Linked DNA regions of Homo sapiens. The protein of the gene in region 1 interacts with the protein of each later gene in a pairwise test. Each region holds a gene or a part of one and is shown in the gene's direction. Other genes may lie near its edges. The genes, in order: PRR23E and ROR2.

Region 1 (2,853 bases):
TGCGCATCAGTTCTTATTTCAGAAACAGCTCCAAATTTCAAGGAGATTCCTCTGGGGGACCTTCGTTTTGGGGAAAAACACCTGGGGCTACCTGATGTGCCCTCTCCTGGATACTGGGCCTTTGATCATCTCTTCACTTCTTTCTCTTCCTTTCCATCATGTCCTCACTGTGTCAGGTGTGGGTGCTGAATATGCTGTTCACAACATTCCAGAACACTCCAGGAGAAACCTGACAGGCCTTGTGTTCAGACACTGCATCCTTTGGAGGAAATGTTTTGGGAGGTCCTGCTTTGTGGGGCAAGCATCTGTCAAGGATGAAGTGCTCCGGGACCTGTCTGCCCCTTCAGCAGCCCCTGCACTGGGGTGGCCCCTGTGGATTTCTGGCTTTGCTGTTCCTTCATCTGTCAGCTTAGGGGCTTTGCTGAATCTTTAACTCTCCCTCCAGCAGGTCTCCAACAGACTTGGCCATCCATACTCTCCAGTCTTTGGTCTCTGTGACTTGCATAGAGGGAAGCATGAGGAACTGAATTTGGAACTTGTTTTGATGTCCCTAGAAAATGCCTCACGTGGCTGCTGTGCACCCCTCCCACTGCAGGGGCCACTCGTTCCTACCCAGGACACCTTGCTCCCCATCCTCCCTGGAGATGCCTTGATCTTGGCTCTTCTGTCACCTCACCCCCAGCTGTCCCCCTCCTCCCATCCCCTCCTGTGCGACCTGGTCTCCCTGCCCTCTGACTGGCTGTCTGCTCACCCCACAGATACCAGGAGCCCCGTGAGGTGCGTGTGGCCTCAGCTTGCAGAGGAGTGCACTTGCCAGACACTTCGGGGCTTTGAAGAGCACAGCTCATCTAAGATGGGCACAGGTGCATCAGAGAAACAAGCAGAGCAGAAGGTCCGCCGTGCCTTCGAGGCCTCCGAGGAAGCCCACGGGACTCTGGCAGCCTCAACCCCCTGGGTGGCCATGGGCTCTGCCTATGGTTCCTGTACCTGCTTGGGAGCCCAGCCTGTAACTGACCTGGCCCTCTGGCCTGTCATCTACTCCTGCATGGGATTTTCCCCACAAGCTTACCCAGCCTTCTGGGCTTACCCGTGGGTGCTCTATGGTGGGTATCTCTGGATGGGTTATCCCCCTCCAGCTGCCTTGGTGCCTTCAGTGTGGCTGTATTGGAGGGGCGCCTCCAGCTTTGACCCCCTCATAGGAAGTCCGTATCTGGCTGCCTTGGCCCCCAACCTATTTCCTTTCCCCATGAAATTCCCACCCACCTACTCCTTGGCTTCTCCCACTCTGGGCGGGGCCACCTCCAGCCACTGTCCCCAGGTGGGATGCTGGACTCCAGCCAGCTCAGCCCCCAGGGCTGCCGTAGAGGGGCCATCCAGAGGAGCTCCCTACTTGAAGACATGCAAAGCCCCTCCCTCAGAATGGGCCTCCAGGTTCGGTATTTGGGCACCTTTGCCCTGCTGCAGTTCAGAGCTCCGCCCTCTGCCCCCTTCCCCCATTGAAGATTCTCAGCTGGACCCGGGCTGCTCCCGCTCCTCCTCCCGGTCACCCTGCAGGGCCCGCCGCCGCCTCTTTGAGTGCTAATCAGCCCTCTAGACCCAGACCCACCCAACAATCAGAGACATGTCTGGTGGAGCCCAGCCAGCTGTGGACTTTAAGTTTTTGGAAGAGTCTCAGATGTAGGTTGTTTACTATTCTTCAGTACAGAGTACACCTCCTGGACTCATGCAAGGCCCCTCTATTTGCTATTTCTCTTTACTTTGTTTTTCTGTTTGCCCTTCAACCCTGATACTGGCACCTTTTCTCCTCCCCAGACTGTCCTGGGCCCGCCCTCTAGTAGATTTGCTGTGAGTCCTCAAACATGCATGCATGCAACCTTGTAAAATGAGCTTATTTAAGCTCAATCCAACCTGTAGAAGCGCTCAGTTAGAATAGGCCTCCAGGTTTGGTATTTGGGCACCTGTGCCACCCTCCAGCCCAGGACTCTCTCTGCCCCTCCTCAGCAAAGACCCTCAGCAGGATCCCCGCATCCCTGGCCACCCTGTGGGGCCTGCTGCTGTCTCTTCCAGCATTGGTGTGTCCTCCAGGGAACCACACACTCAAGCACTTTGGAACCCATGGAATCCAGTGAGCACGTGCTGTGGGCTCTGCCTAGAAGCTTCCAAAACCTGTTTGTTCCAGTGGACACAGAGTAGGAAATGCTGACTCGTTCAGAGCGCTAGTGCCCTTGGGTCCTTGCGGGTGTGCTCTTCTCACTCCTCACCCCATCAGCACCTTCTGGGGTAATGCACACACCAGTAAAATGTACAGTGCATGCTTTTAAAAATTTTTAAATAAATGATACTATGCTATAAATCATGTTTTCTCCAATTTTTCATTCATTAGTTTAAGACCTAGCCATATCTGTATATATGTATAGTGTATTTTGCTTATTCAAATTTATTAGCGTGTTTTCCATACTATTTCTTGCTGTATTTCTTGTTATGTGCTGTATTCCATTTTTCTTTAAAATTTTATTGTGTATATTTGAGGTTTACAACGTGATGTTATGGGATACATACAGGTAGTAAAATGGTTACCATAGTGAAGCCGACTAACATCTGTCATCTCACGGCTACTTTTTTTTGGTGATAAGAGGAGCTAAAATCTACTTATTTGACAAAAACCCCTAGTACAATGCCATTTCATTAGCTTTATTCCTCATGCTGTACCTTAGAGCTCTAGGCTTGCTCAGCCTATGTATATTTAGTATCCTTCGACTTACATATCCTGGTTTCCCCACTCCCAGCCCATGGGAACCACTGCTTCTTTCTCTATCTCTGTATTTTAGCTCTTTGTTCTGTTTTAATATTCCA
Region 2 (7,298 bases), on another chromosome or scaffold:
CTTCAGATGCAGGGGGAGATTGAAAACCGAATCACAGGTAGGAGCTGCAGACCTTTCTCCCAGGATGATAAGCATGCACACAGCCATCTGTCGCACAGATGGTGGCCACTGTGTTTCATCAGTTAATGGCATGGTCAGTGGGTGCCTCTTCCATTTCATTTGTGGTAGAAACCAGAGATCTTTTTTAGAAGTAGTGGCAATTGCTAACATGATTTGCCCTAAAAATGTTCCTGGCCTGTATGTTTAAATTAGCAAGTGTGGGTTGCTTGGAATATACTTCTGCACTTTTAACTCAGCCAAACCGTGTGGGTCCAAAGCACTGTCCTCACTGCAACGCCAGGGCCTCCTGCCCCGGGCCTGCCACACTGGCGCAGATAGCCTCAGCGCCCCCACACTCACTCTGCTTGACTTCTCATTCTGTACTTCCTGACTCTTCTATCCTCTCTGAGCCACGTTTGGTCCAAAGGCACCCAGGCCTGATTGCAGCTGTTTTGGGGAAAGAGTCGCGGGTCATCAGTGGTAGGGATGCTGCAGTGAACACACACTTTGTCAGTCCTGGGTTTCCAGAGAACAAAGCCACGTCTTTGGGTACCTGGTTCAGGGTCTGAGAAAGTGGCAAGTCAATTAGGAACTGCAGCTGCTCATCCTTGGTCTCATTAGGACTTAACTTCTCTGATTGGCTGTCCCAGTTCCCAGCATACAACTCGAACACATTGATGGGGTCCGGGGTCCTTCTTAGGGGAAAGGCCTTGGAAAGGAAGAAAATTAATTAGACAATAGTCCTACAGAGCCCTCCTCCTGCTGTCTCTACTCTCTCCACAAACACATACACATTTTCTCTCCAGATCCCATAAGGAGCAAGACACATCCTGTGCAGATGGCCGGTGCCCCAGCACCTCAGTTTAGTTGGATCCTCTCCATGGGAGCGGGAGGCTCTGCTGCAGATTAGAGTCAGTGGGTGATCTCTGATGCCTGCGCTCCTGGGAGAGTGTGGTGGGGCAAAGGGGATACAGGGCACTGACCTGTTAAGGGGTGACAATGAGGATCCAAGGCAGAAAGTCACCTCATGTCACTGACAAGCCCTTCTAAGTTCAGGTCACCCTCGGACTAGAGAGTCGAACATCACATTCACGGTCACAGAAGAGACTGCCTGGCCCATGTGCTGGTACAGAGACCTCTGAGGACAGGGCCAGGGGGTCCTGTGCAAACTGAAAGAGCCATCATGAGACAGAGAGGAACCTGGAGATGCCATCCTGTTCCAGCGGGAGATGGTTTTGAAAATATGGCTACCTCTCACTGCAAAAGCTTTCTTTGCCATTAAAGTAGGACTTCTCAAAGGTTTTTACCGAAACACACAGTGGAAAATAGAGAATATACTTTACGCCATGACTTAGTGTACACATACATGTATTTCACACAACTGACATAGGTTACAGGGAATAACTTTCACCCTTCGTAAAAGCGGTGCACTTGGATTTTTCTTTTCAGTTTTATTTCATTAAATAAAAAAGTGGCCGGGCACGGTGGCTCACGCCTGTAATCCTAGCACTTTCGGAGGCTGAGGCGGGCAAATCACGAGGTCAGGAGTTCAAGACCAGCCTGACCAACATGGTGAAACCCCATCTCTACTAAAAACACAAAAAATTAGCTGGGCATGGTGGCGGGTGCCTGTAATCCCAGCTACTTGGGAGGCTGAGGCAGAAGAATCACTTAAACCCGAGAGGTGGAAGTTGCAGATCGCGCCACTGCACTCCAGCCCCAGAGACAGAGCAAGACTCTGTCTCAAAAAAAAAAAAAAAAAAAAAAAAAAAAAAAAAAAAAGTTAGAGCCCTTAGTAGGAACCGTGCATTCTGACATCCTCTAGTCTGTTCTTACCATCTTTTAAAATGCTAGCTGCAGACTCTCAGAATTAATTAGACACCCTACTAATTGGCAAGCACTGATCCAGGGCACAAGATTGTCCCTCAGTTATCTCTTCAGGAGTTGTTTAAGGAATCAGCTTGCATCCAAGCAGCCTGGTTTTATAGCATCTTTTAGAGAAGAGTTTAGAATGAAGATTTTCTAGGTGGGTGGCTTTTTGAAAACAGTAAATTTGAAGTTGCTCTCAACAGACTTGTGGTTTTGAAATAAGCATAGTAATGACTGCGTTGTGTGCAGTGTTGTGTTGGAAAGTGTTGTGTGACATTCAGGGTGTGGACAGATAACAGGATGTGAGTTGTTGGATCTCTTTGTGCCTAGAATTGCACTTTCAGAAATAAGCAGTACATTCTCAGGGTGAGGAGAAGGAGAAAGAGAAATCCTATAAAGATCAGCAGAGACATCCTATCAGTGGATTAGCCCAAGAGAAGTGACAGCTTTGGCATTCTTAGACAATCTTTCCCTGCCTGGAGGTCAAGGCCTACCTACATTTTTGACAGCCATCCATATAATCCCAAATCTGTAATGATGGGATTGAACAGGGTTGAAGCCTCAGTTCTTCCTCCAAATCCAAGACATCCTGTACTGTAACTGCTTGCCCTCTCTGTTCCTCCATTTAAATATCGGCCACAGGAACCCAGAGGAGGGGAGGTGATGTGATGAGCACAGTAGTGCCTGCACACAATCAGGACAGCGTGGCTGCTCCCGCCCACTGACGCCGCCTTTTACCAGACCCCTGGGCCCATTCACGCTGAGGGCCACTTTATAGGCTCTGTGTGCACTCTCATTCCCCAGTGTGGGGTCTCAAATCACTCTTCAGGTACAGAAACAGGCCCGGAAAGGCATGAGTGATACCACAAAGTGATCACGCACAAGGCTGTTCCCACACAGCTGCCCATCCCGTTCCTGGGTGGGTTCCCAGGGAATGACTGACAGCGGCACTGCCACCTGCTGGCCAAACCTGGCACAGCACTTACACGCTTTCCTTGCCTGGAGGTCAAGGCCAGCATTCTTGACAGCCCTCTGTATAATCACCAAATAATCGCCAAATCTGTAATGATGGGATTGAACTGCATTCGTGGGTGGAGTTAGGGCTCCTCAGGGACTAAATGCCAGCTTCTGGGTTTTCTGCCACGCTGGAGGACACAGCCTCTGCTGGGTGTGCAGGCAAAGGGGCCTGTCTGCCTCCACTGTCCCCAAGCTCAATTGTTGTAAGCCAGCCTTTCACAGGTGAAAATGGGGTAGTGAGCCCAGGGCAGGCTGATGCATTCCTTAGAGCCCTGCCTTGGCCAGCTTCTTCACCCTTACCAGTGTCCAGCCATGCACCCCAGGTGCAGCAGATCTCTCCCCAACACCCCCACTTTGTTCCCGAACTCACCCCATCTTCTAACCACCAAACTGCATCCTCTGACATCTTGCCCTTAAAAAACAAACCGCCCTACCAAAGGGGGCTCTGGATCTTCGGGTTTTTCTGCTCCCCCTTATCACAGAACCTTCCAGAGTTGTAACGCGGCTCTCCTCCCACTTTGCTGCTCTCACCCTCTTGGCTTTCCGCATTTTACCAACTGTCTCCTCCAGCTGCAGTTCACAGAGCTGAGCTGACTCCCTCTTCCGGGACAGCCTTCTCCCCAGACAGATCTGGGACATTGGGAAGCCTGGGGCTCGGTACTGCACTTCTTGGCCTGCGCTCTCCACACATGGCGGGTCCTTAGGATCTGCTTTTGCATCTGAAGTCTGAACCCTCTTGTCCTGGAAGAAGCACCTAGCGGAGTGAGCTAGGGGGCCGAGTTTTCCTTCTTTCTTGTTCTGCTTCTGATGTTTCTAAGTGAGGCCCTGGGACCAGGGACTTTTCTGTGACTGCTGCAAATCAGAGCAGGTGATGGGCAGGCTGGCCTGCTGGTGGGGAGCCTCTCCAGGGTGGTGTGCGGGGCTCGGGGTTGGGGAGTCTGGGGCGGGGCGGGGCATCAGGGGGCTGAGTGGGCAGTCTGGGATGCCAGGCTGGGGGTGGGGACTGGATGAATGTCAAGGGCGCAAGGTGGGTCCCCCGCTAACGCGAGTCTCGCGGGCTCTGCAGCGGCCTTCACCATGATCGGCACGTCTACGCACCTGTCGGACCAGTGCTCACAGTTCGCCATCCCATCCTTCTGCCACTTCGTGTTTCCTCTGTGCGACGCGCGCTCCCGGACACCCAAGCCGCGTGAGCTGTGCCGCGACGAGTGCGAGGTGCTGGAGAGCGACCTGTGCCGCCAGGAGTACACCATCGCCCGCTCCAACCCGCTCATCCTCATGCGGCTTCAGCTGCCCAAGTGTGAGGCGCTGCCCATGCCTGAGAGCCCCGACGCTGCCAACTGCATGCGCATTGGCATCCCAGCCGAGAGGCTGGGCCGCTGTGAGTGCCCGAGGGCCCGGGGCGGGACCGGGGGGCGCAGGGAGTGTAGGGCCCTTGAAATGTGTATGGGGGTGTCGGTGAAGCCCAGGGAGCCCCATCTGTCCAGGCCCCACAGAACCCCCTTAGCAGCCGAGGGCCCCACAGCCTAGGCCTCCATTCCAGCAGGGCAGCAGGCGGGGCCTCGGATCAGGGGCTTTGGAGCCATTCAGCCCCAGGCTCGCATGTGGGCTTGCACTGTGTCCAGCTGTGGGACTCAGGTGAAGTCCCTCCACCTGCTTGAGCCTGGGATTTCCCTTCTCTGAAATGGGAGTGATCTCACTTCCTGTGGAAATGGCTGTTGCGGGCATGAGAGGAGACAGGGCCAGCTTCCTAACTTGCCCGACGGTCAGCACGCACTCGGGCCGCCAGGCGAAAATGCAGACTCTCAACTCCTGCCCCAACCTCCTGAAACCTGGAGGATCAGTCCCCAGAAACCTGTAGGATCCTTAGCCTTGGATGAATGTGAGGCCCACGGAGATGCTGCAGGACTGGCCTGGGAGGGCACCTGAGAAGAACCTGTAACAATCAGGCATCACTAGGGAAGGAAATACAGGGAAGCACCGTGCACCTTTCTACAGGTCCCTGAATCGTGGGGCCTAAGGGATGAGCGTGGGGGAGGGGGACAGTTCTGAGCCCGGGGCCTGGGTGTGGCCTGTTTGGGGTCTGCACAGGACGAAGAGCATGCTCCCCACTGCCCCTCTTGCTGGCAGCAGCCCCTGCCCTCTGGAGGCTTAGTAAACCCCAAGTTGTGAGCCCCAGCAGGGTGGCCATGGCCAGTCAGGATGGCAGACACAGGACAGGGAGCGCTGCTTATGTCTCCGAGGAAAACCATTGGCTGACATCACTGCATCCATACGGGTTGTTGCCTCCCTGAGGAGTGAGACCTAGGGAACGGGCCACCTCCGCCACAGCTCCGGGGCTGTATTTAGCATCGTTGGCTAATCTGGGGGTCCAGGAATGGCCAGGACTCCTTACCAGGACCAGCCAGGGCCTGGTCCTTGGGCCCGTTGCCTGCATTCAGACCCTCATTGTGACCCTGGACAAGTTGCTAAGCTCTCATATCCTTATATTCCGTGGGGATGACACCAGTACTAACCCGTGGGGCTGAAATGAAGGTCAAATGAGGCAATATTTAGGAAGGTGGTTTTTTTGTTTGTTTTGTTTTTTTGAGACAGAGTCTCACTCTGTCACTGAGGCTGGAGTGCAGTGGCATAATCTTGGCTCACTGCAACCTCCACCTCTCAGGTTCGAGCGATTCCCCTGCCTCAGCCTCCTGAGTAGCTGGGACTACAGGCGTGCGTTACCACATCTGGCTAATTTTTGTATTTTTAGCAGGGACGGAGTTTCACCATGTTGGCCAGGCTGGTCTTGAACTCCTGACCTCAAGTGATCCACCCGCCTTGTTAGCCACGGTGCCCCAGCCAGGAGGGTTTAGAGCAGCGCCCCACACATGGTAAACACTACAGAAATGTTCACCAAATGCACACCCCAACCCCAGGGTTCCTCCATGGAGGTGGCGTGGCCTGCACTGTTCTCACCCATGGCTGAGCAGGGTGTCCTGAGATGGAGGGGCCAGGCCCTTCTTGCTTGCACAGTTGGCTTTCTTCCTAGAGCAAGTTGATCCTGAGGCTGGGGAGACATCCCCATTCTGGTGGGGTGGTGGTGTGCAGGTGCCTCGTGGGTCCCAAGAGATGGTTCTGGGGCTGTGGAATAACTTTAGACAAGTTTCCTTCCCCATGCCTATCCCTGATGTGCCCTGCATTTAATTTGTGGGCTTGGGACTTCATTAAGCCATTACTTTTAATGCCTCTTTTCTGGTAAGTTATGTAAAATCCTTGGATCTTTTGGAAATTCTAGTTTGGGCATGTGTAGGCAGAATGGTTTTGTTGTACCCCGGAGGTTTTCCTAACGTGTTTTCCTTGTTCAGACCATCAGTGCTATAACGGCTCAGGCATGGATTACAGAGGAACGGCAAGCACCACCAAGTCAGGCCACCAGTGCCAGCCGTGGGCCCTGCAGCACCCCCACAGCCACCACCTGTCCAGCACAGACTTCCCTGAGCTTGGAGGGGGGCACGCCTACTGCCGGAACCCCGGAGGCCAGATGGAGGGCCCCTGGTGCTTTACGCAGAATAAAAACGTACGCATGGAACTGTGTGACGTACCCTCGTGTAGTATGTATTCTCTCTCTCTTTTTTTAATGTGTTGATTGTTGAGTGAACCTTGTGATGAGGGCGTTCTGTCCTGACCTGGGTTGGGGTGTGCCTCTGTACGGTGGCGACCAGAGACCCCTGATCTTACCACAGTGACCATTTTAAATAAAGCTGTTGGGCCACGCGTAGTGGCTGATGCCTATAATCCCAGCACTTTGGGAGGCCGAGGTGGGCAGATCACTTGAGGTCAGGAGTTCAAGACCAGCCTGGTCAACATGGTGAAACCCCATAAAAATACAAAAATTAGCCAGGTGCGGTGGCACATGCCTGTAATCCCAGCTACTCAAGAGACTGAGGCAGGAGAATCACTTGAGCCTGGGAAGCGGAGGTTGCAGTGAGCCAAGATTGTGACACTGCACTCCAGCATGGACAGCAGAGTGAGACCCTGTCTCAAAAATAAATAAATAAATAACGCAAGTTATTGGTTGTTATGAAAGTAACATCTGACCATTACAAGACATTTTAAAATATAGAAAAGTCTGAAGAGTAATGTCAGATCACCCCTAATGTTACCACCCAGTAGTGACTTGTTTGCGTTTTGGCCCACCCCCTTCCATCAGCCCTTTTCCCATGTATGGATGGTCCTGGGATATTCACTTTGACATTTTGTTTCTCCATTAACATTATCTCCCAGTGCGGTGGCTCACAACCTGTAATCCCAGTACTTTGGGAGGCCAAGACGGGTGGATCTCTTGAACCCAGGAGCTTGAAACCAGTCTGAGCAACATGGCAAAAACCCGT

What was found.
Region 2: the proteins of PRR23E (region 1) and ROR2 interact in binary tests that used the Homo sapiens proteins (3 or more experiments, as listed by UniProt).

Annotation. Positions count from the first base shown.
Region 1 is NC_000003.12:127,195,833-127,198,685, forward strand, and holds the end of PRR23E (proline-rich protein 23E), read left to right. Parts: intron 1-758; 5' UTR 759-853; coding exon 854-1,582; 3' UTR 1,583-2,353; downstream 2,354-2,853.
Region 2 is NC_000009.12:91,730,130-91,737,427, reverse strand, and holds part of ROR2 (tyrosine-protein kinase transmembrane receptor ROR2 isoform 1 precursor), read left to right. Parts: coding exon 1-37; intron 38-3,991; coding exon 3,992-4,306; intron 4,307-6,272; coding exon 6,273-6,518; intron 6,519-7,298. UniProt on the Homo sapiens protein: Tyrosine-protein kinase receptor which may be involved in the early formation of the chondrocytes. It seems to be required for cartilage and growth plate development. Phosphorylates YWHAB, leading to induction of osteogenesis and bone formation.